Homo sapiens: one gene and its partners. The protein of the gene in region 2 interacts with the protein of the main gene of each other region in a biochemical or structural test. Each region holds a gene or a part of one and is shown on either strand. Other genes may lie near its edges.

Region 1 (4,310 bases), on a different chromosome or scaffold from region 2:
CTGGCCTGAAGGGGCTGCGTACAGGACACCTCTCCATGGTGCTGTTGGAGGGCCCCGCAGAAAACACAGGTTGGAAAATGGCCAAGGTACAGGGCAGTGCCTGCCAGGAGTCAGACAGACGTGAGCTTGGATCCCAACTGTCTCTGATGACTGTGTGCTCTGGGCAAGTGAATGGACCTCTCTGAGTCTCATCGCTCAAACAGGAAGAACCACACATACCCTGTGGGCTGCTGTGAGGAAGAAGTGGAGGCTCCGTGGATGGTAAATTCTGACAGGGGGCCCTCCCTGACGTGTGTGGCCCACCTGCCTGGACCTGACGGTTCTGACCCCAGGCTCGTTTACCTGTTCCGGGGTTGGTGCTATGGGCGTGTCACCGGAGAGTATGGGCGGGGCGGGCAGAGGGGCAGCATGCTGGCCAGAGTCCTCTTGCTGGCTGGAGTCAGTGCCCACAGAATCCTGTCCTGATTGTGTCTCTGAGTTGAACACGGTCTAGTGGGAGGAAAACAGGATCAGTGAGGGCTCCTGGGAACATCAAGAGCCCAGGAAGTCAGGGGCCAGCCTGGTGATGTCTCTGGGGATGAGTCCTGCCTCCCTTCCCTTGGTTCCCGGTACGGCAGTTCTCTCACCCTCTGGGGTGTGTGGATGGGTGACAGCATGTCCAGGTCAGTCATGGGGAACTCCAGGCCTTTCCTCCGCAGGTCCTCATAGATGGTGACCACACCTGTCAGATCGGGCGAGCTGCGGAACGCGTCAGCCCAGGACTGAGAGGGGACAAGGGGACACAGCCGGTAACCACAGCTCACCTGTGAGCCTGCCCACCTGGCACTCAGACAGAGAACAGACATTCTTTCCCTGCTTTTTTTTTTTTTTTAACTACATCTGCCCTGCCCACTCCACAGCAAAGCACGCAGTTGGCAAGCCTCCCTCCCCACAGAACATCCCACCAGCCGACAACCGAGACGCCCCGAAATGAGAAGCGGAGCCTGGGACAAACACGATGGCCTCGACTCTCCACTGGGCAGGAAGCTCCTGCACTGACAGCTCTTCCTGGCCGTGCCCTGCCCTGTCCTGGCACTCACCTGGATGAGGTTGAGCACTTTGTCATGCACGATGGTGGGTGGGTTGTTCTTGGGCAGGATGGTCCTCACCAGCACACTCTCCACGAAGTCCTGGCTGGCCACCAGCACGTGGAAGCGGTGCCCGCAGTTCTTGACACAGGTTTCTAAGACCTGGAGGGCCGAGAGGTGCCGTCGAGCACCTTGGTCAGAGGAGAGGAGGTGCTCAGAACCCCCACCCTCGTGGCTCCTCCTGTGTCCCAGAGAGGAGGCCCGGGAGAGGAGATGGGACTTCCTGGAGTGAGACCCTTGAATGTGGAGGACTGGGACAATGCCAGGACTGGGGGACTTGTTTACTGGAGGGCACGGCCTAGGGTGGGCAGAGGTATGGTGTGTGGGCTGGACTTCCTTCCCTGACTGGCGTCAGTGCACGCAGAATCCCAATGCTGTCTCTGAGCTAAACATGGTCTAGAGAGAAGGGGCTCTCCAAGAGGAAATCAAGGAGCATCTGAGATGTCAATCGACTGGTGAGCCTGTGGCCCAGGGAAAAGGCACTGAACTTCCCTCCCCACTCTCCACTTCCCACTGCAGGAATTGCCTTTGCTTTTTGCTTAAGCCAATTCACCTGGATATAAATGCTGCTTGTGGAGGAGGGTGGGACAGCATTTATATCTTCCCCAGCCAAACCCATGCTGACGGCTAGGAGGCCCACGTGTGTCTGGCCGCCCTGAGATCTGGGCTGGTTCAGTGGTGTGGGCAAGACTGTTCTCAGCCACTGGTATTTATTTTACATTCATTTGCCAGAGCACCAAAGTGCCGAGCAGCACCCAACTCAGTCAGCCGGCCTCCCTGCCCCCGCGGAGGCCTGGGTTTACTGAGCTTCAATGTCACCCACAGGTCCTTTGGCCCAGGCTCTCCCTGCCAGTGGTTCTGGAGTGATGTAAGCGTCTGTTCCCATGCTGGGGGATTGGGGAGAACCTTTCCAAATGGCCTCTTGCCATTCTGCATCCGCCTGCAGTGTAGACAGGACAGTGCGTTGCCTACAGACCTTTCCAGCTCTCAAATGAGGAGCTCAGAGGAGGCTGGGAGTCCTGCTGGGTCTGAGGGGAGGTGACTTTCAGTGGACCGTAGTCCTGCCACAGGACAGACAGATGGGGCACTCACTGTGAGAGCCAGCATCACCTCGTGGAAGTTCTTATTCCCCACGATTCTCTTCTTTACTGCTCGGAGGGCATCTTTGGGACTAAGGAGGACAAGAAAAAGGGTGGGCTTAGGAATAGAGCCCCCTTACCTAACACCAGAGACCCTGGAGAGTTGGAACAGTTCTTATTGGCCCATCCTCCCTGTGCCCCACCTGTTTTGTGTATCCAGCCAGGTTCTGATCACATCAGAATCTTCCTAGCCCATTGCTTAGCAGGGACTCACAACCTGTGGCCCCTGGACCTCCAGCAGCAGAGTCACTTTGAGAAAAGATGAGAGCGTTTTGTTAAAAGTGCAGAACCTGGCCGGGCGCGGTGGCTCATGCCTGTAATCCCAGGACTTTGGGAGGCTGAGGCAGGTGGATCACTTGAGGCCAGGAGTTCAAGACCAGCCTGGCCAACATGGTGAAACCCTGTCTCTACTAAAAATACAAAAATTTGCCGGGCGTGGTGGTATGACCCTGTAATCCCAGCTACTTGGGAGGTTGAGGCGGGAGAATCGCTTGAACCCAGGAGGCAGAGGTTGCAGTGAGCCGAGATTACGCCACTGTACTCCAGCCTGGGCAACAGAGTGAGAGCCGAGATTGCGCCACTGTACTCCAGCCTGGGCGACAGAGTGAGACCCTGTCTCAAAAAAACAAAGGACATTCAAAAAAAAAAAGCAGAACCCTAGGTCCCCACCCTAGACCACCTGAACCAAATTCTCAGGGAGTGGGGCCCCTGAATCTGAATGCTTCTCATGCTCCCCAAGGGTTTCTTATGCATGCTCAAGTTTAAGAACAAATAACCTGGAGGCATAATGTTTTCATTACAAAAATAGAGATGGGGTCTTGCTATGTTGCCCAGGCTGGTCTCAAACTCCTGGGCTCAAATGATTCTCCCACCTCGGCCTCCCAATATGTTGTGATTACAGGCATGAGTCCCTGAGCCCAGCTAGCATAGTGTTCTGATGCCCCGTCCTGGCCAGCTGCTCTATCTGTCCATTTACCCTTCCATTCAAGTTTTTTTTTTTTTTCCTTCTGAGACAGAGTCTCACTCTGTCGCCCAGGCTGGAGTGCAGTGGTGCAATCACAGCTCGCTGTAGCCCGGAACTCCTGGGCTCAAGTGATCCTCCTGCCTCAGCCTCCCAAAACGCTGAGACTACCAGTGTGAGCCACCATGTCTGGCCCATTCAACTCTTATTAAGCACCCAATATGTATGTAGCACCATGCTAGGTGCTGGGGACACAGTGGCAAACAAGACCATATGGCCCTGCCTCCTCCCCACCTTGCGGGGAGATCCAAAGAAGAGCAAGGAATAAGCAGGTCCTGGAAAAAGAGCAGAGGTGAGGATGGGGGTGGTCAGAAAAGACCTCCGAGGGGGTGGTCTTGTAGTTGGGCCTTGAAAGATGGGAAGGACCACCTGGGGGGAGTGGGGGCAGAGCAGTTTGGGTCAAGGTCAGAGCCTGGACCAAGGTCTTGGGTGCAGAGGAGCTTGATGCCTTGGAGGAACTAAGAGGAGGCCACACTGAGTGTGGGGGAGGTCGGGGAGGGCTGAAGAAGCCTAGGGGTCACGGTGTTGGGAGGCCCCTGGAAGCTGGGGTGCCAGCCTGCTCTCCCTGTCCCCTCTGTGATTCCCACCATCCTCCACCCTCGGCCCTATACAGGTATACTCAGTGCTGCCCTGACTGCTCTTGTCTAAAAGCCTTTGTGCAGGGCCCCCACTTGCACCCTGAAGGCTCCTGACCTCCACATCCATGAGGTGAAGCCTCAGCTAAAATCCACCCCTTCCACAACACTTTCCCAGGTCCTCCAGTCTCCCTGGCCTGTTCTGCCATGCCACATTGAACTGGGGGCCCACCCTGGGTAGAGAAGAAGCTTGCTAGAGGGCAGGGATGGTGTTCTCTTTGGACAGCTTCCCTTCCTAGAGCCCATCACACTACTGAAGCACAAGTAACATTTCTCAGCCTGGCCAGTGGCCACTGGGACCCATCCGGCTGTCTGCCTGGCTGTCAGTGCTGACCCCATCCAGGACTAAGGCAGGAGAGCCTGGAACCCTGGCACTGGTTCTCAGCAG
Region 2 (4,310 bases):
AACTTATATGGTAATGAATGTTTTTTTCTTTCAGGTATAAGAAGCTGCTGTCCCTCTTAACCTTTGCTTTGCAGTCCATTGATAATTCCCACTCAATGGTTGGCAAACTTTCCAGAAGGATCTACTTGAGTTCTGCAAGAATGGTTACTACAGTACCCCATGTGTTTTCAAAACTGTTAGAAATGCTGAGTGTTTCCAGTTCCACTCACTTCACCAGGATGCGTCGCCGTTTGATGGCTATTGCAGATGAGGTGGAAATTGCCGAAGCCATCCAGTTGGGCGTAGAAGACACTTTGGATGGTCAACAGGACAGCTTCTTGCAGGCATCTGTTCCCAACAACTATCTGGAAACCACAGAGAACAGTTCCCCTGAGTGCACAGTCCATTTAGAGAAAACTGGAAAAGGATTATGTGCTACAAAATTGAGTGCCAGTTCAGAGGACATTTCTGAGAGACTGGCCAGCATTTCAGTAGGACCTTCTAGTTCAACAACAACAACAACAACAACAACAGAGCAACCAAAGCCAATGGTTCAAACAAAAGGCAGACCCCACAGTCAGTGTTTGAACTCCTCTCCTTTATCTCATCATTCCCAATTAATGTTTCCAGCCTTGTCAACCCCTTCTTCTTCTACCCCATCTGTACCAGCTGGCACTGCAACAGATGTCTCTAAGCATAGACTTCAGGGATTCATTCCCTGCAGAATACCTTCTGCATCTCCTCAAACACAGCGCAAGTTTTCTCTACAATTCCACAGAAACTGTCCTGAAAACAAAGACTCAGATAAACTTTCCCCAGTCTTTACTCAGTCAAGACCCTTGCCCTCCAGTAACATACACAGGCCAAAGCCATCTAGACCTACCCCAGGTAATACAAGTAAACAGGGAGATCCCTCAAAAAATAGCATGACACTTGATCTGAACAGTAGTTCCAAATGTGATGACAGCTTTGGCTGTAGCAGCAATAGTAGTAATGCTGTTATACCCAGTGACGAGACAGTGTTCACCCCAGTAGAGGAGAAATGCAGATTAGATGTCAATACAGAGCTCAACTCCAGTATTGAGGACCTTCTTGAAGCATCTATGCCTTCAAGTGATACAACAGTAACTTTTAAGTCAGAAGTTGCTGTCCTGTCTCCTGAAAAGGCTGAAAATGATGATACCTACAAAGATGATGTGAATCATAATCAAAAGTGCAAAGAGAAGATGGAAGCTGAAGAAGAAGAAGCTTTAGCAATTGCCATGGCAATGTCAGCGTCTCAGGATGCCCTCCCCATAGTTCCTCAGCTGCAGGTTGAAAATGGAGAAGATATCATCATTATTCAACAGGATGTAAGTATAGATTCTTTAAGAGGTTAGAAAACTTCCTTGGGGCTGGGCACAGTGACTCATACCTGGAATTCCAGCACTTGGGGAGGCTGAGGCCGAAGGATTGCTTGAGCACAGGAGTTCGAAACTAGCCTGGTCAACAAAGCAAGACCCTGTCTCTACAAAAAATTTTAAAAATTAGCCAGGCATGATAGTGTACACCTGGGGTCCCAGCTACTCAGGAAGCTGAGGTGGGGAGGGTCACTTGAACCTGGGAGTTTGAGGCTACAGTGAGCTGTGATTACACCATTGTACTCTAGCCTGAATGACAGAGCAAGACACTGTCTCACAGAGAGCTTCCTTGGACCATACTAAAATAAACCTAATTCAGAAATGCTGCTTCTAACATTCAGAAGCAGAGTTTTCCACATAAAATTATTACTTATACAACAATAATGTTTGTACTGTTTAAACAGCAATAATTCTTGCCTATGGGCATTTCCGGTTAATTGTATAATGGTGATTACTTTTGCATTTGCTGTCGGTCACAAATACCTTCCATTCAGAGGTCACATTTATAGGTGGTTTGGGAAGCCAGACTGAATAAGAATAATATCTTGCAGACTAATTTCACAAAATCTTACTCCTTTAACAGTAAAAAGATTGCTTTCGTTTAATATGTAGACACCAGAGACTCTACCAGGACATACCAAAGCAAAACAACCGTATAGAGAAGACACTGAATGGCTGAAAGGTCAACAGATAGGCCTTGGAGCATTTTCTTCTTGTTATCAGGCTCAAGATGTGGGAACTGGAACTTTAATGGCTGTTAAACAGGTAAATATCTAGTGAGCATATAAATGAAATGACTCAAATCACAAAATGAAGCATGTTCAGTAAAAAGAATAAAGGATATGTCCACGTGTGTGTACTTTAGTTCTTTAAACTTTGAGAAACTTAGTTTCAAAGTAGATGTTTCTAAAGCACCAGAAACATCATGAATTCTGTTATTGTTAAAAGTTGAGGCCACGCGTGGTGGCTCACACCTGTAATCCCAGCACTTTGGGAGGCCAAGGTGGTTGGATCATTTGAGGCCAGGAGTTCAAGACCAGCCTGGCCAGCATGGTGAAACCCTACCTCTACTAAAAATACAAAAATCGGCCGGGCAGGGTGGTAGGCACCTGTAGTCCCAGCTACTCAGGAGGCTGAGACAGAAGAATTGCTTGAACTCAGGAGGTAGAGGTTGCAGTGAGCCGAGATCGCACCACTGTACTCCAGCCTGAGCAACAGAGCAAGACTGTCTCAAAAAAAAATAAATAAAAGTTGAAGTATGATTATTGTAAGACTACAATATCAAGATGGGCCTTACAAAGGTTTTTTTGGTTTTGCTTTTTGTAGGTAGTAGAGGTGGTTTTCAGGTACTTCTTTCAACAGTGTACTTGTGCGGTGCCATCTTGGGGTTTCAGTGGTTTACTTTTTATTATAACGAGCATACTTAATCAGGATAGGAAAATTATTAAACTTTCATTTTTAAATCATGTTGATTCTTCTCCCATATTTGGGCTTTTCTCATCTTTACTCTGAGACTATTGGAATATTGACTATATCCCAATATTTTTGTCATTTTTCTGATGTTTACTGCTGCTTAAGCTAGATTCTTAGTGTTTAAAAGAGTTTGACTTGGGTTTGTTTAAAGTACATTGCATCCATAAGCATAAATGCCATCTGTTGCTAATAAAGTGCTAGTTTGCATTTGTTCATTTTAGATCAGATTGCTAGTGAAAATATGCAAAACTTTGTGAACGTGTTTATTTGAAACAGGTGACTTATGTCAGAAACACATCTTCTGAGCAAGAAGAAGTAGTAGAAGCACTAAGAGAAGAGATAAGAATGATGAGCCATCTGAATCATCCAAACATCATTAGGATGTTGGGAGCCACGTGTGAGAAGAGCAATTACAATCTCTTCATTGAATGGATGGCAGGTATGTTAATGTTTTAAATTACAAAATAGTAGTACGTGGATTTAACTTTCTGCAATTTAGGAAAAACCAGTTTAATTAAAATTTATTTCTATCAAATAGTTTGGGTTTCTAAAAACAAATCACCCCAATATATTAGTATGAACCACAAATACTTCGTTTTGTATTTCATTTACTATAAATGAAATATTGACTACCTCTACCTTTTAAATTTTTCCAGTGTGTTTTTAAATGATTGTGTAGCATTGTTGTTTTTAATACTTGATATGTATAAGATATGTATATTTCCAGGTAGCCATGATAAATTGGACAGATGAGGAAGTGTTTTAACATAACAATATACAAACAAAATTAACATATAACTTGAAAACTTACTACAAGTAAACTAGCACTGAAGCATAAAGTTGAACCTTGTCATCTGCTGAAATAAATGAAGACTGAGTTTTATTTTGTATTATACAATGTATACAATAAAATTAATGACCTGATGTGATGAACAGATTGTTTGGTTTAACTTCTTAGATTTGTGTGTGTATTTAAGAGTGCATTTCTCTTTACCAGTCAGTTCTTAAGTATGTTATCTGTTGGTTGGTCTTAATAAAGATTTACACTACAGTAGATAGGTTGACTACTATAAACACTTTTAAAAGCGGCTAAATTTGAGACATGTTCCAGGTCAGAGCTAGTAAATGGTAGAATATGACGCCTAACTCTGGGTTTTCTGTTCCTCCTCCCATTCTTTCCACCTTTTACTACATAATATGTTAACATTGTTTACTTTAGTCATTAATAAAGTTGTTTTGTGTATTTTGAGAAGACAGAGAATTGAATTGTACATTTCAGAAATAGTTTAATCCGAAATTGTTAACTTTTACAGCTTTCTGAAATCTTGACTCTCCAATAAACTGGTTTCCCTGTGGGTTCTGTGAAAATGTCTCCTAATTAGTAGGTTTTTGAGATGATACAGGAATATGTTAGTTTTGAAATGTTTTTCTTCTGTTTCAGATGTGAATGTGAGTTCA
Region 3 (4,310 bases), on a different chromosome or scaffold from region 2:
AGATACTCCGGAGGCTAAGGTAGAGGATCACTTAAGCCCAGAAGACGGATGTTGCCGTGAGCTGAGATTGCACCATTGCACTCCAGCCTGAGCAACAGAGCAAGACCTTGTCTCAAAAAAAAAAAAAAAAAAAAAGGAAGAGCTATAACCCATACGGCACACAATTCACCCGTTTAAGATGCTTCTAGTGTATTCACAGATGTGTGCAATCGCCGCCACAGTTAACTTTAGGACATTCCATCATCTGTAAAGGAAACATCCCCTACCTTTAGCTACCATCCTGACATCCTGATAGACAGGGGGCCTGAAGACCCCTCGGTGATGCAGGGCAGGGCTGGAGTGGGGGCCCTGGGCTGACTTTATTGCTCGCTATTGCTGCCTTGAAATTCTGAATACGTTTTTAAAACAAACGCACCATCCTTTCATTTTGCCCTGAGCTCCACAGACGATATAGCTGGTCCTGAAGTGGGGCAGAGGATCATTCTGACTTGGAGTCAGACTCTAGCGACGCAGGCTTCTACTGGGTGGAGGCCCAGGAGCTCAGGAGCCTTCTGTGGGAGTGTGCCCATTGGCAGCGCATCCCTGGAGATGGACGGACAATTTCCACATCGCCTTTGCCCCTGTGCACGCTCCCTCTGGCTGCCGTCATAAATTACCACAAACTGGGTGGCTTAAAACAACAGAAATGTATTTGCTCATGGTTCTGGAGGCCAGAAGTCCACACTCCAGGGGTGAGCAGGGCCGCACCCCCATGAAGGCTCCAGGGAGGGTCTGCTTCATGCCTTCTCTTGAGTTTCTAGTGTTGCCACCGACCCTTGGCGTGTCACTCCAGTCTCGGCCTCTGCCAACATGGGGTGATCATGGGGTGTCTAGGCCTAGGGCCCTTCTCCTCCTCTTCTTCTTCTTCTTTCTTTTTTTTTTAAGACAGGGTCTTGCTCTGTCGTCCAGGCTGGAGTGGAGTGGCACTACCTCAGCTCTGCAACCTACACCTCCCAGGCTCAAGCGATCCTCCCACCTCAGCCTCCTAAGTAGCTGCGACTACAGGTGTGCACCACAACACCTGGCTAATTAAAAAAAAAATTTTTTTAGGCCAGGTGCAGTGGTTCATGCCTGTAATCCCAGCACTTTGGGAGGCCGAGGCAGGCGGATCACTTGAGGTCAGGAGATCGAGACCAGCCTGGCCAACATGGTGAAACCTTGTCTCTACTAAAAATAAAGAATTAGCTGGGCATGGTGGCATGCACCTGTGATCCCAGATACTCAGAAGGCTGAGGCAGGAGAATTGCTTGAACCCGGGAGACAAAGGTTGCAGTGAGCCAAGATTGTGCCATTGCACTGCAGCCTGGGAGACGAGCAAGACTCTGTCTCAAAAAAAAAAAATTTTTTTTTAGCAGATTTTAGCAGAGACAAGGTCTCACTGTGTTGCCCAGGCTGGTCTCAAACTCCTGAGCTCAAGCAATCTGCCCGCCTTGGCCTTTCAAAGTGTGGGATTACAGGCATGAGCCACCACACCCAGCCCTTCTCCTCTTGTTATAAGGGCACCCATCCCTGGACTAGGGCCCACCCTAATGACCTCAACTTGATTACGTTGGCAGAGACTTATTCCCAAATGAGGTCCTACTTACAGGTACTGGGGGTCAAGACTTCAGCATTCTTTTGCGGGGGGCCACAATCAGTGACACCCTGACTCGCAAGCCTCAATCACCTGTTCCAGTGAGAAACAGGACTGAGATCAGAAGGAATGAGGCAGAGCTGCCCTCGATTGGTTCTCCTCTCCTCCTCACCTGCCCACCCCGGCCTCTGCGCCCGTCACTGTCCTCTCCAGCTGTTCTTCCTTCCGGGCAAGGAGACTCAGCAGAAGGGTATGAGTGGCCTGGCCCTGTGGGGAGCCGCAGACAGGCCTGTGGGTGCTTTGGATAACTACTGCGCCTGTCAACTCTCCTTGGTAGTCTAGGGTTCAAAGCCCAGGTCCATTCTAGAAGTCTGCTTCCAAGTGCTAAGGAAGCTTCAATAGTTACTGGGAAAACCACAGGGGTCAAAGGTCCGTCGAGTTATTTCCCGGATCCGAGTCTGACGTCTTTTCCCCGCCGCTTGCGGTGGTTGTGACCGAACCTTGAGTTTTGGAACAGGTCACATGGCTTTGAAATCACGGTCAATTCACCTGGTGCTGCTTTGACTTCAGGCTCTTCCTTCTGCCCAGCTCCGTCCCACCCAGCAGCCCGCAGAGAAAGGAGGCAGCTGGCACCACACTGGGCTTTGGAGACACTGCGGGGACTGTGGACCCCACCCTGCTGCACGGAGCTCCTGCAAAAGCAAACCTGAGAACCTTGGTGAGTACTTCCGGAGACCCGGCTCCTGGGACGGCTTCTGGCGCTGCTCCTGCACACACGACTCTCCAACGATCATTTTCCATGTTTTATTTTTATCTTTTAATTTTTGAGATGGAGTCTCACTCTGTCACCCAGGCTGGAGTGCAATGATGCAATCTCAGCTTACTGCAACCTCTGCCTCCCAGGTTCAAGTGATTGTCCTGCCTCAGCTTCTCAAGTAGCTGGGACTACAGGCACCCGTCACCATGACTGGCTAATTTTTGTATTTTCAATAGAGACGGGTTTCCACCATGTTGGTCAGGCTAGTCTCAAACTCCTGACCTCAGGTGATCTGCCCGCCTTGGCCTCCCAAAGTGCTGGGATTACAGGCATGAGCCACTGGCCCCGGCCCATTTTCCATTTTTCAGATGACAGGTGTTGATTTGCTCTGATTTTCAAGTATTTTTAGCATACAGATCCCTGCAAGAGGCATCTGTCTCCAGTGGTCCAGCCTCTCCTTCCAAATGAAAAGAATCAAGTCACAGGAATTCATGGGTCTGTAAGGAATCGCTCCCATCTGTGCCCAGGAGATTAACAAAGGCGGTGGCTGCAGCTCTGTGAGCAGTGGAGAAAAATTAGGCACAACCTGATATCCTCCCACAGGAGCGTAAGTCCACTGTGGTTATTCATATCATTGAATCCAGTGCACAGTTTAAAGGACCATGCATGTATCAAGCTGCATGTATCAGTATGAGAAACCTCAGAAGCCGTACAGCCTTGCACAGAACGATAGTTTCTGTGAAGTTCCAGCTAACACTGAAGGCACTGTTGATGTAAAGCTGCTGTCTGCACGAAGTATCATGCAAAGATGCTATGTACTGTTTATACACACTTCCATTTGTAGGAAATGATTTTTAAAATATCATTTTTAGGCTGGACTGTAATCCCAGCACTTTCAGAGGCTGAGGTAGACAGATCACCTGAGCCCAGAAGTTCGAGACCAGCCTGAGCAACATACGGAGATTCCATCTCTACAAAAATTAAAAAAGAAGCCAGGCATGGTGGCGCATGCCTGCGGTCTCAGCTACTTGAGAGGCTGAGGTGGGAGGATTGCTTGGGTCTGGGAGCTCAAGGCTGCAGTGAGCCACGATCACGCTACTGCGTTCCAGCCTGGGCAACAGAGTGAGACCCTACCTCAAAAAAAATCATTTTTAAATGATTTTAGAATGTCTGGCCAGAGAGGGAGGGAAGAGGGACTGAAGAGAACAAAAAGGCGCCATCTGCCTCGCATTTCCTTAAAAAGAAACCTGAAGTGCAGAATGTCAAGATGGTTGAATCCGCATGGTAGATATGTGGATATTTGTTATTTGCAGGATTTTTTAATATGCTGAAAACAGTGCACAGTTTTAAAACATTTTAAAATTATTTAGATGGATTAATGGGCTAATGGCCTCATGTTGATGCCAGAGAGGGGCTCAGGCAGGGGCACAGTGGGGTACACAGCTCATCTCTCGCTGGGATGGGAGGCTGGGCAGGTGACGGCTGAGGACCTCCAACAGCTCTTAGAGTCTGCACTAGCCAGCATGTCCCCTGAAGAGCAGGTGTTCCGGGCTGTAACGGCGACCTGCTTCGTGTATTCTGTCCAGACAGACCTGGGCTTGGGACATCAGCCCTGGTGGTGGCCCCAGATCAGCTGCAGCTCAGCCCTTTCGGGGACCTGTCCACCCTCTGTCTGCCTCGCCATCTTTGTAAGCCCACACCCCCCGCAGCCGAGCCGTGCTGGCCGTTACTACCCTGAAGTGTCTTCTGCGAGGCACTTGTGCCCAGTGTCACTCCCCAGCACATTTCCCTCATGTGGAGTCCTCTGCGCAGTCCTCTGTGTCACTGTCCTGGGCCGCTGCAAACAAGGGACCACCTGCTGCGTAGTTGAAAACAATGGGAACTTTTTTTTTTGTTTTTTTAGACAGAGTCTTGCTCTGTTGCCCAGGCTGGAGTGCAGTG
Region 4 (4,310 bases), on a different chromosome or scaffold from region 2:
AAAAAAAGGAGATATTTGCTAAGTGAAAAAGTGAATGGAGTGTTGGGAAGATTCTGAGCCCAGATTGTAAGTGGGGTCTGGGATGAAAGCTGAAAGAAAGCTTGATAGAGTGTGGGAGCATGTGGTGTGTGGAACTTTGGAGAGCAGCTGGGACTTCTGTGGTGATGGATGCTGGTTCCATGACCAGGAGGGAGACTTAGTAGAATGTGAGTAGGAATTAGGAGGCTCTAGGAGGGATTCAGCTGTAAGTCAGTGGTAGCATATGGTGGGCATGGCCTTCAAGGGCTATGGGTGGGGCTTCAAGGATTGAGAATGGGATTTGTGAAACCAGCTTGGGCTAATTTAATAGTAAACAGAATCTTAGTGGTTGATAGGGCTTAAAATATTTGTGAGAGCCTGGGCACAGTGGCTCATACCTTGATTCCAGCACTCTGGGAGGCTGAGGCAGAAGGATCTCTTGAGGCTAGGAGTTTAAGACCAGCCTAGGCAACATAGCAGGAACTTGTGTGTACTAAAAATAAAATAATTAGGCCAGGCACGGTGTTTCACACCTGTAATCCTAGCACTTTGGGAGGCCAAGGTGGGCAGATCGCCTGAGGTCAGGAGTTCAAGACCAGCCTGGCCAACATGGCAAAACCCCATTTCTATTAAAAATACAATAATTAGCCAGGTTTGATGGCAAATGCCTGTAATTCCAGCTACTTGGGAGGCTGAGGCAGGAGAATCACTTGAACCTGGGAGGCAGAGGTTGCAGTGAGCCGAGATCACACCACTGTACTCCAGCCTGGGTGACAGAGAAAGACTCAGTCTCAAGAAAATAAACAAATAAATAAATAATAAAATAAAATTAACTGGGCATGGTGTGCACTTGTAGTCCCAGCTACTTGGGAGGATCGCTTGAGCCCAGGAGTTTGAGGTTGCAGTGAGCTATGATTGCACCACTGCACACCAGCCTGGGCAACAGAGCAAGACTGTCTAGGGAAAAAGATTTTTTTGAGACGGAGTCTCACTCTGTCACCCAGGCTGGAGTGCAATGGCTCGATCGCGGCTCACTGCAACCTCTGCCTCCTGGGTTCAAGCGATTCTCCTGCCTCAGCCCCACGAGTAGCTGGGATTACAAGCGCGTGCGCCACCACGCCCAGCTAATTTTTGTATTTTTAGTAGAGACGGGGTTTCACCATATTGGTCAGGCTGGTCTTGAACTCCTGACCTCATGATCCACCTGCCTTGGCCTCCCAAAGTGCTGGGATACAGGCGTGAGCCACCGTGCCCAGCCACGGAAAAAGATTTTTGGGGGAGGCTGAGGTGGGAGGATTGCTTGAGCTCAGGAGTTCAAGACCAGTCTGGGCAATGTAGCGAGACCTTGTCTCTACAAAAAAATCAAAAAATTAGCCCGGCATGATGGCACACACCTCTGATCCCAGCTACTTGGGAGAGTGAGGTGGGAGAATCACTTGAGCCCAGGAGGTCAAGGTTGCAGTGAACTGTGATCATTCCAGTGCACTCCAGCCTGGGTGACAGAGCAAGTCCCTGTCTCAAAAAAAAAAAGAAAAAAATGTGAGAGGCATGGATAGAGCTGAACCTTCGTCTTTTAGGCATGTGGTCATTTGGCACAGGGACTCTGCCACCTGAGGGGTTGAAGGCCAGTTCTCCCTCTATTCGAGGCATGGCAAGGGACTTCAGAGACCACCTCATCCATCATATATCCCTGTTCTACTCACCAGCCCTGCAGGAACGCTATGGGAAAGAAGCCGGGAAGTTCTCAGCTGTCAGTGAGGGCCAGGGGGATCCCCCAGGGGGCCTGGCCCCCACCGTCCTGGCCCCCATGCCGTTGGCAGAGGTGGAGCTGAAATGGGAAATGGAGAAAGAGGAGAAGAGATTGCTCTGGGAACAGCTGCAAGGCTTAGAGGTGAATCTGAGTCTGTTGGAGCTGGAATGCCAGAAGGCAGGGCAGATGTTCTACCTCTGTCTATAGTCCCACGGAGATGGCTGTGACATCACCATCTTGTGGGCTGATGGGGTGAGGGAGGCAGGAGGGCAGGGGAAGGCTTCTCCTTGTCCTTGCTAACAACAACCCTCCCATCCCTCATCCTTCCCTGCAGAGCTCAAAGCAGGCCGAAACATCCAGGCTGCAGGAGGAACTTGCTAAGGTGCGGCTGCTTGGCTCTTTCCCATTCTGCTCCCAATCTGCTGGATTCTTTCCCATTCCATTCCCAATCCTAGGGCAGAAGGGGCATTGTACCCCATCAAAGCCTAGGTTTCATCATCTGTGAAATGGAGAGACTCACACCTATGTCTCAGAGTTACTTTCAGTATGGAATGAGTTAATGTGGTCCCACTATATCTTGTGCATGATAAGTTTCATCCCATCCATCTCTCAGCTTTGCCCATTCACTCATTCATTCATTCATGCAAGCATTTACAGACTCCTGGCTCTTATCTTAGGACCTGGAGACCCAGGGGTGCGGCACCCAGTCATGATATCCTGCTTTCCAGGCCTCCCAGCCTAGCCAATCTATAACATGGCCATTGGCCACTATGTTGGGAGCATAAATACCGGGCTTTGGAACCTGAAGGATCTGGGTGGAGATAATATTGTTGTTGCTGACCCGCTGAGCAACCAAATTACTTAACCTTTCCAAGACTCTGTTTCCCCATTTGTAAAACTGGTACTACTCACTTGTCAGGGCTATTTTGAGGATTCCACAAGACAACATAAGTAAATCCTGGCTTCCAAAAATGACTTAATAAGAAGTGTCTATATTTATTAATTTTAGGTTTGTCTTTATATTATTCTCAATGTTATCACTTGTCTGTACCTCTCTCCCCAGCTCTCCGAGAAACTGAAAAAGAAACAAGAAAGGTAAATTTCTTTTTCCCAAGGGTACTGGGGGCCGAGGGGGGAATTAACTTACGGAACTGACCCATCTACATCTGTCCTTCTGTGCCCAGTTTTTGCCGTCTGCAGACAGAAAAGGAGACTCTGTTTAATGACAGCAGGTAACTGCCAGATTTGCGGGTATTGGTGGACAATTGGGACAGTGCCCAGTGAAGATTACAGGGGCAGAGCTAGGAGACTGGGCCTCAAGCCATGTCCAACACACCCCCTCCCCATCACTCCTAGGAACAAGATTGAGGAATTACAACAACGGAAGGAAGCTGATCACAAAGCCCAGTTGGCTCGAACCCAGAAGCTGCAGCAGGAACTTGAGGCTGCCAATCAGGTGATGGGGACTGGGTTCTGAGATCCCTGGGGTAGGGGCCAGGACTGGGAGCCTGGAGAGGTCTGAGGTCCATGGAGGCTGGCTGGGGAGTCTGAGATTTCCTGTGTTGGAAATGGGTTCTGGGGCCCCCCAGGAGCTAGGAAAATGGGAATTGGAGAGCCCTAGGAATTGTTATAGGAGTCTTCATGAGTGTAAGATCTCAGGGGGCTAAGGACTTAGGGGGCTGTGTGCTATAAGTTTGTGTAAATCTGAAACTCCTGGAGGTTTGAGACCACAGTCTGGATGAATCTGTGGTCACTAGGGCCTAGGACCAGGAACTGGGGTAAGTCTGAACTCCCTGGGTGCTGGGTGACTTTGAAATCTTTAGGGGCTGGGATGTCAGTAAATTTGGGACTCCCAAGGGCTGAGGACATGGCTGGGTAGATATACAACTTTCAAGGGTGAGATAGTTGGGGCTGAAGGCTGAGTGCATTTGAGATCCTCAGGATCTGGGCGCTGGCTTGGGCCTAAGACACCTAGGAAGTGGGATCATATGGGCTAGGTAGTCCTGAGATCCTTGAGGGCTGTGAACAAAAAGCTGGTCAGTCTGAGACCTCCAGGGGCTGGAGCAGAAGTTTAGGTGGGTCTGAGGCTCCTGAGGACTGGGGGCTGGATGGTTCTGAAGCCTCTGGGTTTCCTTCTAGAAAAGGTGAGTCTGAGGTCCCTTGGAATGGAGGATATGGTGGCTTGTGGTTCTGAAGTCCCTAGAAACTGGGAACATGGGGTCTGAGACGGGAGTCTGGGTAAAGCTGAGACCCCCAGGAACTGGTGGTTAACTGGGTCTGAAGATTCCAAGAGACTGGGGAGCAGAGTGACAGGTGAAGGGGTCAGTCTGAGAGTTCACCAGGACCTGGAAACTAGGAGGTTGTGAGTTTGAGACCTCTAGGATCTGGGACTATGAGTTTGGGTGGATCTCACCTGGGAAGTAGGGACGTGGGAGATGAGTGTGTCTGAAACCCCTGGTGGTTGGGATTGGGAGGCTGGGTGAAACTGTCATCCTTGGGTGCTGACTACATCTGAGATCCATGGGGCTGACTGTGTCTGAGA
Region 5 (3,898 bases), on a different chromosome or scaffold from region 2:
GGCTCAGGGTGTCCTGTGCTGCCCCTGCAGGCTGACCCAGGATGTAGCCTCTTGCTCCTGGGGTGGCGTCCTCAGGGGTCTGCGATTCCTGTCATCTCTCCCTCCTCAGCTCCCACCCTTGCCTGCCCCCTGCTCCCTCTCCGGGGGGCCTTGGTCCTCCCCTGGCCTTTCCCACACCTGGGAGGAGGCCATCTGGTGTGCTGGCTGCTGAGAGAATGACTCACAGGTCTCTCTGCCCCCAGCCACCCGGAGGAAACTGTTTGAACTTGCCCGAGCCTTCTCAGAGAAGACCAAAATGAGGAAGTCAAAGAGGAAACACTTGTTGAAGCATCAGTCGTATCCTTTCCAGCCTGGCACTGGTGGGGGTGGTGGAAGCCAAGGGCCATGGAGCAAGACCCCTGTTGGACTCCCTGCAGCTGTGCCCTCCCCTGGGAGTGGAACCCGGCTCTGTGGCCTTCCCTTCCTCCTCCCCTCTCCTCCATGAGCTTGGCCACCAGTCCACTGCCCGTCTCTCGTTGCCAACCAGGGACCAGGCCTAGGGAGCAGGGCAGCAGCTCCTGTCTCCCTTCTGTAGGCCCAGAAGTTGTCCTATTAACTTTTTTTTTGGTCTGAGGTTATGTACTTCTTGGGAGAAAAAGTGGTTCTTCCATCAATATCAAACCTTCCCTTCATTTCTCTAGTTGAACTGGTGCACGAGTCCTCCTCACTCCAAGCATGTTGGCCCTCCCTTCCTCGAGTAGAAATACGGCTTTCCACCTTTTTATCAGAACTCCTATTCATGCTTCTCAAACAGGGCCTAGGATAGCAGAGGCTCAGCAGCCAGAGGGAAACAGGGAGGAAGCTGTTTCTCCATCCCCAGAGATGTAAGCTGGGCGAGAGTGTCAGGGCCTGGCCATACCACTGACCTCAGGAAAATGAGCCTGGGGGACAGTACTAAGGGTGTGGGGGGTCAGGTGGGTGTGTCAGGTACCTCCAGAGCTTTGAGGGGTGGGGCAGAGAGTCAGTGGGACTGGGAGGACTAGGGCAGTGTCCCCTCATCCCTGGGACGGTTTTCCTGAATGGCCTGGCAGGCTGGGGGCTGCCGCGTCAACAGCCAACCTCCTGGATGATGTGGAGGGCCACGCGTGTGGTGAGGCTGGAGGGGAGTCGTAAGCTCCAACTTCTCTATGATCGGTGATCTCCCAGCGGAGTTCCTGGGTGTTTCATGGGAGCACCCGCCCTGTCCCCTGGAGGAACACACTGAGGGTTGGTGGGCAGGTGACCCAAAGATATGGATCCCCCTGACTTGGTCGACATTGCTTCCCCCTTTCTGCAACCCCTGAAAAGGGGCCCTAGCCCTACTTCCACCTAGATGTGTACCTGTAGCATGAAGTGCCAGGTACTGTTTCTGGGGAATATTCTTTTGGGTGTGAGGTGGCAGACAGGCCTGCCCCCATGGGGGACCCTCGGCCTGAGAACCAAGCACTGGGCAGCTTCAGTCTGTGGGCCCAGAGGCTTCTCAACTTTCACCCAGTCCCTTCCAAAGGCCACGTGGGCCAGAAGACTCTGCCTCAGACCCTCCTGGGCCCGCAGCTGAACCCTGATCCTCATGCCACATTCGAGGGTCAGGAGGCATCCAGAAACAAGGACTGGAAGGGCCTCAGAGGTCATCTAGATAGTCCAGCTTTTCCATCCCATTTTATAGATGAGGAAATTTGAGGCCCAAAGACGAGGGGAGAACTTGTCCAAGGTCTCAGAGCTCAGTGGTGGACCCTGGCCAGCACCTGAGTGTCCTGCTGCCTCTCTCCCTGGACCCATGCATCGTCTACCTGGGGGGATCTGCATGGGTCCCAAATGAAGGGGGCAGAGAGAGTCGGGTCAGCTCTCTTGCCCAGTCTAGGGGCCGTGCCTGAGCGAGGCCCTGCAGGGTAGAGGATGAGGCAGCTTCCCTCTCCTTTTCAGATGAAGACTTCCGGGGCAGGCGTCAGGAGGCACCCAAGGTGGAGGAAGGCCTGCGAGAAGGACAGTAAGAGGTAAGGCCTGGAGCCATAGCAACCCAGGGACTGCCCAAGGCCAGGGCCCCCCACACTATGCACCCCACATGTCCTCCCAGGTGTCCAGAGGCGCTGGGCTCAGGCAACTGGGTAGCACAGGCCCCACGTGTCTTCCCTCATAGTTGCGGCAGGGACACGGGCGTGGGAACTAGTTCATTGCATGTCTTTTTTGGTTATTTATTCATTTGACAAAAGATGAGCACACCTGCCTATGACAGATGCTGAGAACAGGAAAACAAAATCAGCTTTGACCTTGAAGAGTTTACAGTCCAGTTGAGAAGACAGTCCAGGACACACGTAGCACACTGAGAGGATGATTTAAGAAAAACTGGCTGGGCACGGTGTCCCATGCCTGTAATCCCAGCACTTTGGGAGGCCAAGGTGGGTGGATCAGCTGAGGTCAGGAGTTCGAGACCAGCCTGGCCAACATGGTGAAACCCTGTCTCTGCTAAAAATACAAAAATTAGCCTGGCGTGGTGGCAAGCGCCTGTAATCCCAGCTACTTGGGAGGCTGAGGCAGGAGAATCACTTGAATCTGGGAGGCGGAGGTGGCAGTGAGCTGAGATCGCGCCATTGCACACCAGCCTGGGCGACAAGAGTGAAACTTCATCTCAAAAAAAAAAAAAAAAGAAAAAGAAAAACTGAGGTGGTCTCAACCCGGCTGTGCACACACACAACTCTCTCCAGCCCCCTGCTTGGGTTGGGTGGGCTGGGATCTGCCACACCAGGATGAGGAAACCCTCCTGAGGCAGCGGTTTCTGGCTGAAGCCCCAGGGCTCCAAGCCATTTCTCCTCCTCGCTTCCTGTGCACCCTCTTGGGGAGAAAAAGAAAATACCAAGGCCTCCTCCAGGAGTTGGCCAAGACAGCTGTCCCTTTTCCAGCCCCCGTTTACCATGGGAGAGGGGAAGCTGCCCGGCCTTCCCCAGCCACTTGTTTGGTCCCAGTGGGCAGCATCTACAAGGCTTTCTTGAGTTGATGGTGTGGCAGGTATGGCCCTGTGTCAGACGATGGAGAAATACTCACTTGCCTCAGGATAGTCACAATGGAGGGAAACCGGGAACAAGTAAATACAAGTGCCCTCTCCTCTCTGCCTGGGCAGCTGGCCCCCACACCCACTCCACCTGACTCCCTACCACATCTCCCACCAGGCACTGCAGCCCCTTCTATTCCCCTCAGGCTTTCCTCAAACACAAAGCCGCGGCCCACTTCCCACTGTCCTGGAATGCCCAGATAGAGCCTGCCGGGGAATCGCCTCCACTGTCACCCCACGCTGCTACTATCTCCACGCCCTTCTCCTTCCTACTGGTCCCCAGGGAGAACGGGTCCTGTCCAAACCACCCCTACATCAGAAACTTGCTCATCATTCATTCATTCATTCATTCATTCATTCATTTTGAGACAGAGTCTCGCTCTGTTGCCCAGGCTGGAGTGCAGTGGCACAATCTTGGCTCATTGCAACCTTCACCTCTCAGGTTCAAGCGATTCTCCTGCCTCAGCCTCCCGAGTAGCTGGGATTATAGGCACCCACTATCTTGCCTGGCTAATTTGTTTTTGTATTTTTAGTAGAGATGGATTTTTGCCATGTGGCCAGGCTGGTTTCGAACATCTGACCCCAGGTGACCTGCCCGCCTGGACCTCCCAAAGTGCTAGGATTACAGGTGTGAGCCACCGTACCTGCACCTCATCATTTATTTCTGTCCTAGGACTTCCAGCTTGTCCCCTTCCAGCTCCTTCTGCAAGTTGACATCCTCCTCCTCCTCCCCTTAAACACCAAGGGTCCTTGAGTCTTCCCTGCCATCCTCCTTCATCCACTGCAGGCTGACAGCCCCTCCCATCACTCGGATTGACTCGGAGGTCACCCAGC
Region 6 (4,310 bases), on a different chromosome or scaffold from region 2:
CAGGGCCTCGTGCTTGTCCAGGAGAGATTCGGGGCTGGGGCTGGCAAGCCAGGGTCCTCAGAGGGAGACAGCTTCTCCCTCAGGCCCTTCTGGGGCTGCCTGACCTTGTGGATGCACCCAGCAGGAGAGATGGTGGTCGGGGCAGCTGCACAGCTGACTTACGTCCTGCCCTCAGTGGGGGCCAGTGCAGCTGTTCCAGGTCCACTGGGTGGTGCTAGCCTGGGGAGTCACCATGCAGGGAGAGCCTGAGCCCTGAGCTACCCCTCCATTCCCAGAGACCCACCCAGGCGATGGAGCGGCCCTGGGCTCCCGGTCAGCTGGCGGGCGGACGGCGGCAACCCCTGAGCCCAGAGGAGCCCCGATAGACCCGACACCGGCAGAAACCAGGGGTTCAGATTTGACTGTGAAGTCTCAGCGTGTTTACGTGGGGCGTCCCAATCCCGACACCCCAAACACACCCCAAGAACCGACGCCTGGGGAGAGTTGTCACGGCCACTGTGGCAGAGCCACACTGCTCCCACACTAAGCTCAGGGCCACAGTGGTGGTCGTTGGCTGCTTCCCCTTCCCCTTTCCCTTTTTCTTTTTCTTTTTCTGACACGGTCTCACTCTGTGGCCCAGGCTGGAGTGCAGTGGTATGATCTCGGCTCACTGCAACCTCTGCCTGCCGGGTTTAAGCGATTCTCGTGCCTCAGCTCCTGAGTAGCTGGGATTACAGGCACCCACCACCGTGCCCAGCTAATTTTTGTATTTTTAGTAGAGACGGTATTTCCCTATGTTGGCTGGTCTCGAACTCCTAACCTCAAGTGATCTGCCCACTTTGGCCTCCCAAAGTGCTAGGATTACAGGTGTGAGCCACTGTGCCCAGCCCTTTTTTTCTTTGTTTCTTTCTTTTTTTTGTTTTTGTTTTTGAGATGCTGCCTCACTCTGTTGCTGCAATCTTGGCTCACTGCAGCCTCCACCTCCCAGGTTCAAGCGATCCTGGCACCTCAGCCTCCCTAGCAGCTGGGACCACAGGCGCCTGGCCCATTTATTTTAATAGCTTTATCTCAGTATTTTCACACACCATATAATTCACCTGGTGAAACGTTTGTAGTATATTCATAAAGTTGTGCAACCACCACCACAGTCTAATTCCACAGCATTCTCACAGCTGCAAAAAGAACCCACCTCAGCCCTGCCAGCCGTCACTCCCCGTCCCCTCCCCCAGGCCCTGGTGCTCACACATCCCCTCTCTGTCTCTGTGGCTCGGCCTGTCCTGGACATTTCATAGACGTGGGATCACACGCTGCGTGGTCTTCTGTGTCTGGCATCTCTCACTGGACGTGATGTCCTCAAGATGCAATCCCCCCTCCCCCCCGCCGTGGCCTGGTCTGGGCCTTGCCCCTTTCCATGGTTGAGTCGTGCTCTGAGGTGCGGGTGGACACTGGAGCTGTTTGCATCTGCCGACGACGATGATGAACTGTGCTGCCGTGAACTCTCACCTGCCAGTTCTGGCCATGTGAACATTTGGTGGGCAGGTGTCTTCGTTTCTCTGGGGTCTGCGCCTGGAGTGAAAGTTCTAGCTCGTGGGTCATGGGGTAGTTCCATCTGGGGGACTTCTGGGCTCCCAGCAGGCCTGACGGGGTCTTGCATCTCGTCCTGGCTGGCCCTGGGAAGTGGCATCTCGCTGGGGCTGGCCGGCTGCGTTTACCCAGCGTGTTTTTGGAGGCATGTCCTGTACACGTCCTTTCCCCCCCCACTTTTCTTTTTTTTTGAGATGGAGTGTCACTCTGTCGCCCGGGCTAGAGTGCAGTGGCGCGATCTCGGCTCACTGCAAGCTCTGCCTCCCAGGTTCAAGCCGTTCTCCTGCCTCAGCCTCCCGACTTTGCCCGTTTTTAGTTGCGTTGTCTGTTTCTCTTTTTCTTTTTTTTTTTGGCAGGGTCTGGTTCTGTCACCCAGGCTAGCGCAGTGGTGGGACCACAGCTCACTGCGGTCTCGATCTCCTGGACTCAAGCCATTCTGCCTCCTGCCTCCCGCTCCTGCCTGTCTCCTCCCCCTCCTTAGTAGCTGGAGCTACAGACCCACCCCAGCATACCCAGCTAATTTGTTTTTTGTAGAAATGGGGTTTGGCCATGTTGGCTAGGCTGGTCTCAAGCTCCTGACCTCAAATGGTCTGCCCACCTTGGCTTCCCAAAGTACTGGGATCACAGGTGTGAGCTGCTGCACCTGGCCTGGGCTTTTTTTTCTTTCTTTCTTTCTTTCTTTTGAGTTGTAAGCACTTTTTTTTTTCCCGATACGGAGTCTCACTCTGTCGCCCAGGCTGGAGTTACAATGTCATGATCTCGGCTCGTTGCAGCCTCCGCCTCCTAGGTTCAAGCGATTCTCCTGTCTCAGCCTCCTGAGTAGCTGGGATTACAGGTACGTGCCACCACGCCTGGCTAACATTTGTATTTTTAGTAGAGACGGGGTTTCTCCATGTTGTCCAGGCTGGTCTCGAACTCCTGGCCTCAGGTGATTCGCCTGCCTCGGCCTCCCAAAGTGCCAGGATTACAGGTATGAGACACCGCGCCCGGCCAGCACTTTTTTTTTTTTTTTTTTTTTTTTTTTTTTTTTTTTTGAGACGGAGTCTTGCTCCCTCGCCCAGGCTGCAGTGCAATGGCACAATCTCAGCTCACTGCAACCTCCGCCTCCCGGGCTCAAGCAATTCTCCTGCCTCAGCCTCCCAAGTAGCTGGGATTACAGGCGCCCGCCACCACACCCGGCTAATTTTTGTATTTTTAGTAGAGACAGAGTTTCACCATGTTGGCCAGGCTGGTCTCCAACTCCTGATCTCAGATGATCCGCCCGCCTCGGCCTCCCGAAGTGCCAGGATTACAGGCCTGAGCCACCGCGCCCCCGGTGATGGCGGAGCGTGCCGAGAATTCGTGGGGCGTGGGCTGAAACGCATGTGGTGCCTCCCGGCCTCACCAGGAGCCGGGCCGCACTTTTTCTATATTGTAGATGGTGCCTCTTCACTCTCCCCTCACGGTGGGTTCATGTGCATCTGGCATCGTTTGCTCACCCTGGCCTTAGTCCCTCCCCACCCAGCCTGTGCTTCAGTGGCAGGAGCAGGTGAGGCAGGCACGGCGTGGTGTGGGCGGGGGCCCAGCTGTCGGCCCTCCCCTTGGGCACTGCACGCCAGACCCCCGCTTCTCCCCAGAGTCAGTGGGTGAGGCCGGGATCTTGCTTGCTGGAGAGGTCCCAGCCCCTGCCCCTGCGAAGACTGAACAGCCCCGGTGCAACCTGCATCCCCAGAGCCTGGGGTCGACCTTGGCTCCCCTCACAGCACTCCCCCATGCACGGTGGGAGCCTTGTCTCCTGTTTTTGTCTGTGTTACCTGGGGGTGGTCTTGGGACCCCCATGTGAGCCCCTGGCGTGATGACACGTGCCGTGTGAGGCCATTTTCACGTTGCTGCGATGGAGCACTTGAGACTGGGTCGTTCATAGAGAGCAGTTGATTTAGCTTCCAGTTTCCAGTTCTGCAGGCTGTGCGGGAAGTGTGTGTCGGCATCTGCCCAGCCCCTGGTGAGGCCGGGAGGCACCATGCACGTTTCAGCCCAGGCCCCACGAATGCTCGGCACGCTCCGCCATCACCAGGGGCCCAGCCATCCATGAGGAGTCCGCCCTGTGAGCCAGTGTCTCCAGCAGGCCCTTCAGCCCTGGGGATCCCGTTGCAGTGTGAGATCCACAGGGGATGGCATCCGTCCTGCTCGGCACAGCTGTGGCTTGAGGCTGGTGCTGGGGAACTGTGAACGTGGTTTTGGGACTCACCCACGGCTGTCCCTGGGCAGGGTCCTCACGTCTCCTCTGGGACATCACCATGTTGGCCTTGTGTTGTCCTTGGCTCTAGGGGGACCTGGGGATGGGGTCTTGCAGGGGTGTGGCCAGCGTGGACGTGGCCTCCCCCGAGCCAGGGGAACGGGCTGTGTGCGGGGCTGCCAGAGCGTCCTGGAAATGCCACTGTGGGGTATTGGGGCACCCCTCCGAGTGGTGCCACCTGTGTGAGGAGGTGCCCAGGCACTGGTGACGCCCGTCACGGTGGGGCAGGTCGGAGGGGCTCAGCCAAGGCGCTGATGACGCTGGTGACGCCCGTCACGGTGGGGCCAGGTCGGAGGGGCTCAGATCGCCGGGAGCCACCAAAGGGTCAGCGGGTGGCTGGCAGAGGCCAGGTCCCCTCGGCCGCCCTCCAGGACCCACGGGTTGGGAGCCACCCTGGCCTGCGTGTGCCTGGCCAGCCAGAGACCGCTGGGTCCGGAGCCCCTCTGTCCTCACACTTGGGGGGGTTTGCAGG
Region 7 (4,310 bases), on a different chromosome or scaffold from region 2:
GAAATTGCTTGCTTTCTAAACCTGAATTTAATAGGGGTATTGCACAAGTCTGGGGGAAAAAAATGCCGGAAGTCCACAAGTTTTGTTTTGTTGGCTTAGAAAATTTCATAGCCATGTTTTTAATATCTGTGCAACATTAGAATGGATTAGAAAGTGTGGAATAGCCTTTCCTGATTGGGTCATGTTTATGAAAACATCAAGTTATAAATCACTAATACTTACAGATTTAAAAATTGGTATATAGTTTAGTATGACTTCTGAATAAGAGAAAGCTGACCCTTATAATTTAAATGAATTATTTAGCTTAGTATTATTCCTGCATTTTAACAATGGCTATTTAATCTTTCTTAGGTTCTTCAAAAACAGCTTGATGATGCCAAGGAGGGAGAAATGGCCCTATTAAGCAAGCACAAAGAAGTGGAAAGTGAGCTAGCAGCTGCCAGAGAACGTTTACAACAGCAAGCTTCAGATCTTGTCCTCAAAGCTAGTATGTGTGACCACAGTTTTTGATGTAATGCTTAGCTAAAATCAACACTTTATTTATTTATTTTTTTGGAGACAGAGTCTTGCTCTGTCGCCCAGACGGGAGTGCAGTGGCTCAATCTCGGCTCATTGCAACCTCTGCCTCCTGGGTTCAAGCAATTCTCCTGCCTCAGCTTCCTGAGTAGCTGGGACTACAGGTGCCCGCCACCATGCTTGGCTAATTTTTTTGTATTTTTAGTAGAGATGGAGTTTCACCGTGTTGCCCAGGCTGGTCTCGAACTCCTGAGCTCAGGCAGTCTCCCTGCCTCAGCCTCCCAAAGTGCTGGGATTACAGGCATGAGCCACCACGCTCGGCCCCAACACTTAAATGTTAATTTAAGGTAGCATTTATTTTTTCTTCTAACATTTTAAAACTATTTAGACTGTAAATAAGTTAAAGGACTCAATATGTTACTAATTACTTATAAGATACACAAATATTTTTTATTTTTAGGAATATATTTTTATAGAAAACTTGAGAGTTTTCCTTTGTGAGGAAAAATACCAATAGCAGGTAAAATACCAATAAAGTAGTCACTAAAAGAAAAACGGGCTGGGCATGGTGGCTTACACCTATAATCTCAGCACTTTGGGAGGCCAAAGTGGGCAGATCACTTGTGGCCAGAGGTTTGAGACCAGCCTGACCAACGAGGTGAAACCACATCTCTACTAAAAATAACAAAAATTAGCTGGGCATGGTGGTACACACTTGTAATTCCAGCTACTAAGGAGGCTGAGGCATGAGAATTACTTGAACCTGGTGGCAGAGGTTGCAGTGAGCCGAGATTGCGCCAGTGCACTTCAGCCTGAGCAACAGAGCAAGGCTGTATCAAAAAAAAAAAAAAAAAAAAAAAAAGAAAGAACGAAAAATGAAGCACACTTTTCAAGAGGTGTTGTCCTTTAAAAATATACATTTTATTTTATTTTATTTTTTGAGACAAGGTCTTGTTCTGTCACCTAGACTGGAGTGCAGTGGCATGAACACAACTCACTGTAGCCTGGACTTCCTGGGCTCAAGTGATCCTCCCACTTCAGCTTCCTGAGTAGCTGGGACCACAGGCATGCACCACCTTGGCTGGCTAATTTTTTAATTTTTTGTAAAGACGGGGTCTTGCCATGTTGCCTAGGGTGACCTCAAACTCCTGGGCTCTAGCAGTTCTCCCACCTTGGCCTCCCAAAGTGCTGGGATTTCAGGTGTGAGCCACCATGCCAGCATTTATTTAGTTTTTAGAGATGGGATCTTGTTCTGTTGCTCAGGCTTGAGTGCAGTGGCCTGATCATAGCTCACTGCAGCCTAAAACTCCTGGGCTTAAGTAATCCTCTTGCCTTAGCCTTCCCAGTAGCTGGGACTCTAGGTATGCCACGGGCTAACTTTTTTAAAGATGAGGTCTCACTGAAAAAATACACATTTTAAAGTGCTCAAATTAGTTGAAGTTTGTAAATTACAGCAGTTCATTTCTTAGGGCTTGTTACTAAGGTTCATTTTTACATACTAAAGCTGACTTGCCTATTTCTCAAGTGGCTGGTATGCTTTTTCACAACCATTACTGGAGGAAGTGGGTGACTTGTGTCAGTTCTGAAGTTATATTTTGTCTAAGTGTTTAGTGTGCCCAGGAAGGCTGTTTGAGCTGGTTCTTTGAGGATCTCATTTGATTTTGATTGGCTTATCAGTGAATCTCAGATTTTCCTTCCTCTAAAATAGTTGTTTTTAATAGCCTTTAGTGCACATTGGAGTGACCTGAAGGGTTTGTGAAACTACAGATGCTGGGCCCCACCCTCAGAGTTTCTGATTCACTTTTAGGTCTGGGGTGGGTCACATTTCTAACCAGAGTTCCCAGGTGATGCTGGTGATGCTGGTCCTGGGTACTTTGAGAACCTCTGCCTTAAACTATCCTTTCTATGAGACCTTTTTCTTCACTCACTTTTCATCTCTCTGTCTCTCCTCATTTTTCTCCACCTTCCCTGCTTTTTGCTGTCATTTAAGAGATTCTTTCATAACCTTGCTGTCTTTATCTGTGTCTTACATCACCTTAGTTGTTGGTTGGTTGGTTGTTTTTATTTGGAGATGAGGTCTCGCTATGTTGCAGGACATAGTGCAGTGGCTGTTACAGGTGCAGTCATAGCTCACTGCAACCTTGAACTCCTGGGCTCAAACAATCCTCCCATCTCAACCTCCCAAGTAGCTGGAACTACAAGCTCCACTTTAGGTCTTTATCTGGCCTCTTGCCTGAAACAAATTCAATTTCAACCAAACTGCTATCTGCCATCTTTGTTTCCTACATACAAACTTCTTCCTTTTTATGTTAGAATTTGAAAATAAATTAGAAAAGAACGAATCACTCATTTTGGCGCCACAGTGTCAGTCAGTGCATCCTCTCCGTCCTTCTTTTATTCCCAGGAGACTTTCTTATGAAGCCTACTGAGGAGTTGCGCCTACTTCAACCTGTTTAGCTTGCAATCTTAAAAAAACAAAAACAAAAACAAAAAAAACCAGTAAAACGGTACGAGGTGCAGGAAGCAACATTAATCATGTGAAAATGACGTTTTAATTTAAATTATTCTAGTGCGCTAAGAAGTATTTTCATGTAAATATTTCCATTTTATGTAGTGAAGAAACAAAAGGAAAATTTGTACATGTAGACCATTTATTTTACTTAAGTATAAAGTACAGTTGTGTTATTAAATGTAAACTGTTTATCTCATAGTACAACTGATTTTTAAATTGAAGGGATTTTCTTTTTGGGGGATAGGTCATATTGGAATGCTTCAAGCAACTCAAATGACCCAGGAAGTTACAATTAAAGATTTAGAATCAGAAAAATCGAGAGTCAATGAGAGATTATCTCAACTTGAAGAGGAAAGAGCTTTTTTGCGAAGCAAAACCCAAAGTCTGGATGAAGAGCAGAAGCAACAGATTCTAGAACTGGAGAAGGTAAAAAGTAATGGACACTCCATTCCCCCCGAAAGAGTTCCGTTTTTCTCTTTTTCACATTTGAAGTATTTGGAGTATTTCTTGCTACTCCCCAGTAACAATACATTTCCTACTTTAGTAGTTATTTTTGGTTCTAATTTTGAGGAAATGGGTATATAGCTAGACTATCCTATGCTGTATGTATGTTCAAAATATGTGGGTAACAATCTATATAATATAAAAACTTTAAGACATTTCAACCTATTTCAAGCCAGAAATTGAATAAACTCTTATTTCAGTGGAGTGTATACTTATAATCATTATTCGTTTTCTATTAATGAAATATATTACTGCATATCCATGTAGGAAATTTCTGTAGAACTGAAAATATGACAAGCTTCAAGCTCTGAAAATGTATACCAAGATAATTGAATTTCTAGTTTAACAAGTGAAACATCATTTATAGAGTAATTGCTGAATATGTATTCCAGTTTTTCAGATGCCCACAATACCAAGTGGGAGTTTTGGACATACTTTTCTTTCTCTTTCCCTCAACGTCTAAGTATTTTGAAAATATCTATTCTCTTTGCTCTTTACTTACTTCCATTCATTCCTTAACCTGGTGCAGTCCTCTCTGACCATCAGTCCACAGAATTTGCTTTTGCCTCAGCCCTCAGTGCCATCCTGATTGGTGGACTTGGTGGATCATATCTTACTGTGGTACTTACTACCCACTGATTTACAATCTCTCATCTCTTGGTATTTCACATTCTTTCACATTTTTCTCGTACCTCCTTGGCCTTACAGTCTTCTTTGTGAACTTCCCTCCTCCATCTGTTCCCTTACCATTGATGTTTCCAGTATTTTCATCTAATTC

What was found.
Region 1: of the proteins of MAP3K1 (region 2) and TOM1, one has a biochemical effect on the other in vitro, tested with the Homo sapiens proteins (one large-scale study listed by BioGRID).
Region 3: of the proteins of MAP3K1 (region 2) and CARD14, one has a biochemical effect on the other in vitro, tested with the Homo sapiens proteins (one large-scale study listed by BioGRID).
Region 4: of the proteins of MAP3K1 (region 2) and GRIPAP1, one has a biochemical effect on the other in vitro, tested with the Homo sapiens proteins (one large-scale study listed by BioGRID).
Region 5: of the proteins of MAP3K1 (region 2) and CUEDC1, one has a biochemical effect on the other in vitro, tested with the Homo sapiens proteins (one large-scale study listed by BioGRID).
Region 6: of the proteins of MAP3K1 (region 2) and RNF126, one has a biochemical effect on the other in vitro, tested with the Homo sapiens proteins (one large-scale study listed by BioGRID).
Region 7: of the proteins of MAP3K1 (region 2) and FAM184A, one has a biochemical effect on the other in vitro, tested with the Homo sapiens proteins (one large-scale study listed by BioGRID).

What each region holds. Positions count from the first base shown.
Region 1 is NC_000022.11:35,319,947-35,324,256, reverse strand, and holds part of TOM1 (target of Myb1 membrane trafficking protein), read right to left. Parts: intron 2,516-4,310; exon of another isoform or gene 2,410-2,515; intron 2,299-2,409; coding exon 2,220-2,298; intron 1,259-2,219; exon of another isoform or gene 1,230-1,258; coding exon 1,080-1,229; intron 762-1,079; coding exon 627-761; intron 490-626; coding exon 343-489; intron 1-342.
Region 2 is NC_000005.10:56,881,536-56,885,845, forward strand, and holds part of MAP3K1 (mitogen-activated protein kinase kinase kinase 1), read left to right. Parts: intron 1-34; coding exon 35-1,331; intron 1,332-1,991; coding exon 1,992-2,144; intron 2,145-3,128; coding exon 3,129-3,291; intron 3,292-4,310. UniProt on the Homo sapiens protein: Component of a protein kinase signal transduction cascade. Activates the ERK and JNK kinase pathways by phosphorylation of MAP2K1 and MAP2K4. May phosphorylate the MAPK8/JNK1 kinase.
Region 3 is NC_000017.11:80,176,326-80,180,635, forward strand, and holds part of CARD14 (caspase recruitment domain-containing protein 14), read left to right. Parts: intron 1-2,182; 5' UTR 2,183-2,330; intron 2,331-2,769; exon of another isoform or gene 2,770-2,778; 5' UTR 2,779-2,976; intron 2,977-4,310. UniProt on the Homo sapiens protein: Acts as a scaffolding protein that can activate the inflammatory transcription factor NF-kappa-B and p38/JNK MAP kinase signaling pathways.
Region 4 is NC_000023.11:48,988,525-48,992,834, reverse strand, and holds part of GRIPAP1 (GRIP1-associated protein 1), read left to right. Parts: intron 1-1,724; coding exon 1,725-1,909; intron 1,910-2,102; coding exon 2,103-2,150; intron 2,151-2,831; coding exon 2,832-2,863; intron 2,864-2,952; coding exon 2,953-3,000; intron 3,001-3,124; coding exon 3,125-3,224; intron 3,225-4,310. UniProt on the Homo sapiens protein: Regulates the endosomal recycling back to the neuronal plasma membrane, possibly by connecting early and late recycling endosomal domains and promoting segregation of recycling endosomes from early endosomal membranes.
Region 5 is NC_000017.11:57,864,588-57,868,485, reverse strand, and holds part of CUEDC1 (CUE domain-containing protein 1), read left to right. Parts: intron 1-242; coding exon 243-336; intron 337-793; exon of another isoform or gene 794-863; intron 864-1,070; coding exon 1,071-1,129; exon of another isoform or gene 1,130-1,148; intron 1,149-1,941; coding exon 1,942-2,009; 3' UTR 2,010-2,012; intron 2,013-3,898.
Region 6 is NC_000019.10:652,930-657,239, reverse strand, and holds part of RNF126 (E3 ubiquitin-protein ligase RNF126), read left to right. Parts: intron 1-4,310. UniProt on the Homo sapiens protein: E3 ubiquitin-protein ligase that mediates ubiquitination oF target proteins. Depending on the associated E2 ligase, mediates 'Lys-27'-, 'Lys-29'-, 'Lys-48'- and/or 'Lys-63'-linked polyubiquitination of substrates.
Region 7 is NC_000006.12:119,019,122-119,023,431, reverse strand, and holds part of FAM184A (protein FAM184A), read left to right. Parts: intron 1-351; coding exon 352-487; intron 488-3,272; coding exon 3,273-3,454; intron 3,455-4,310.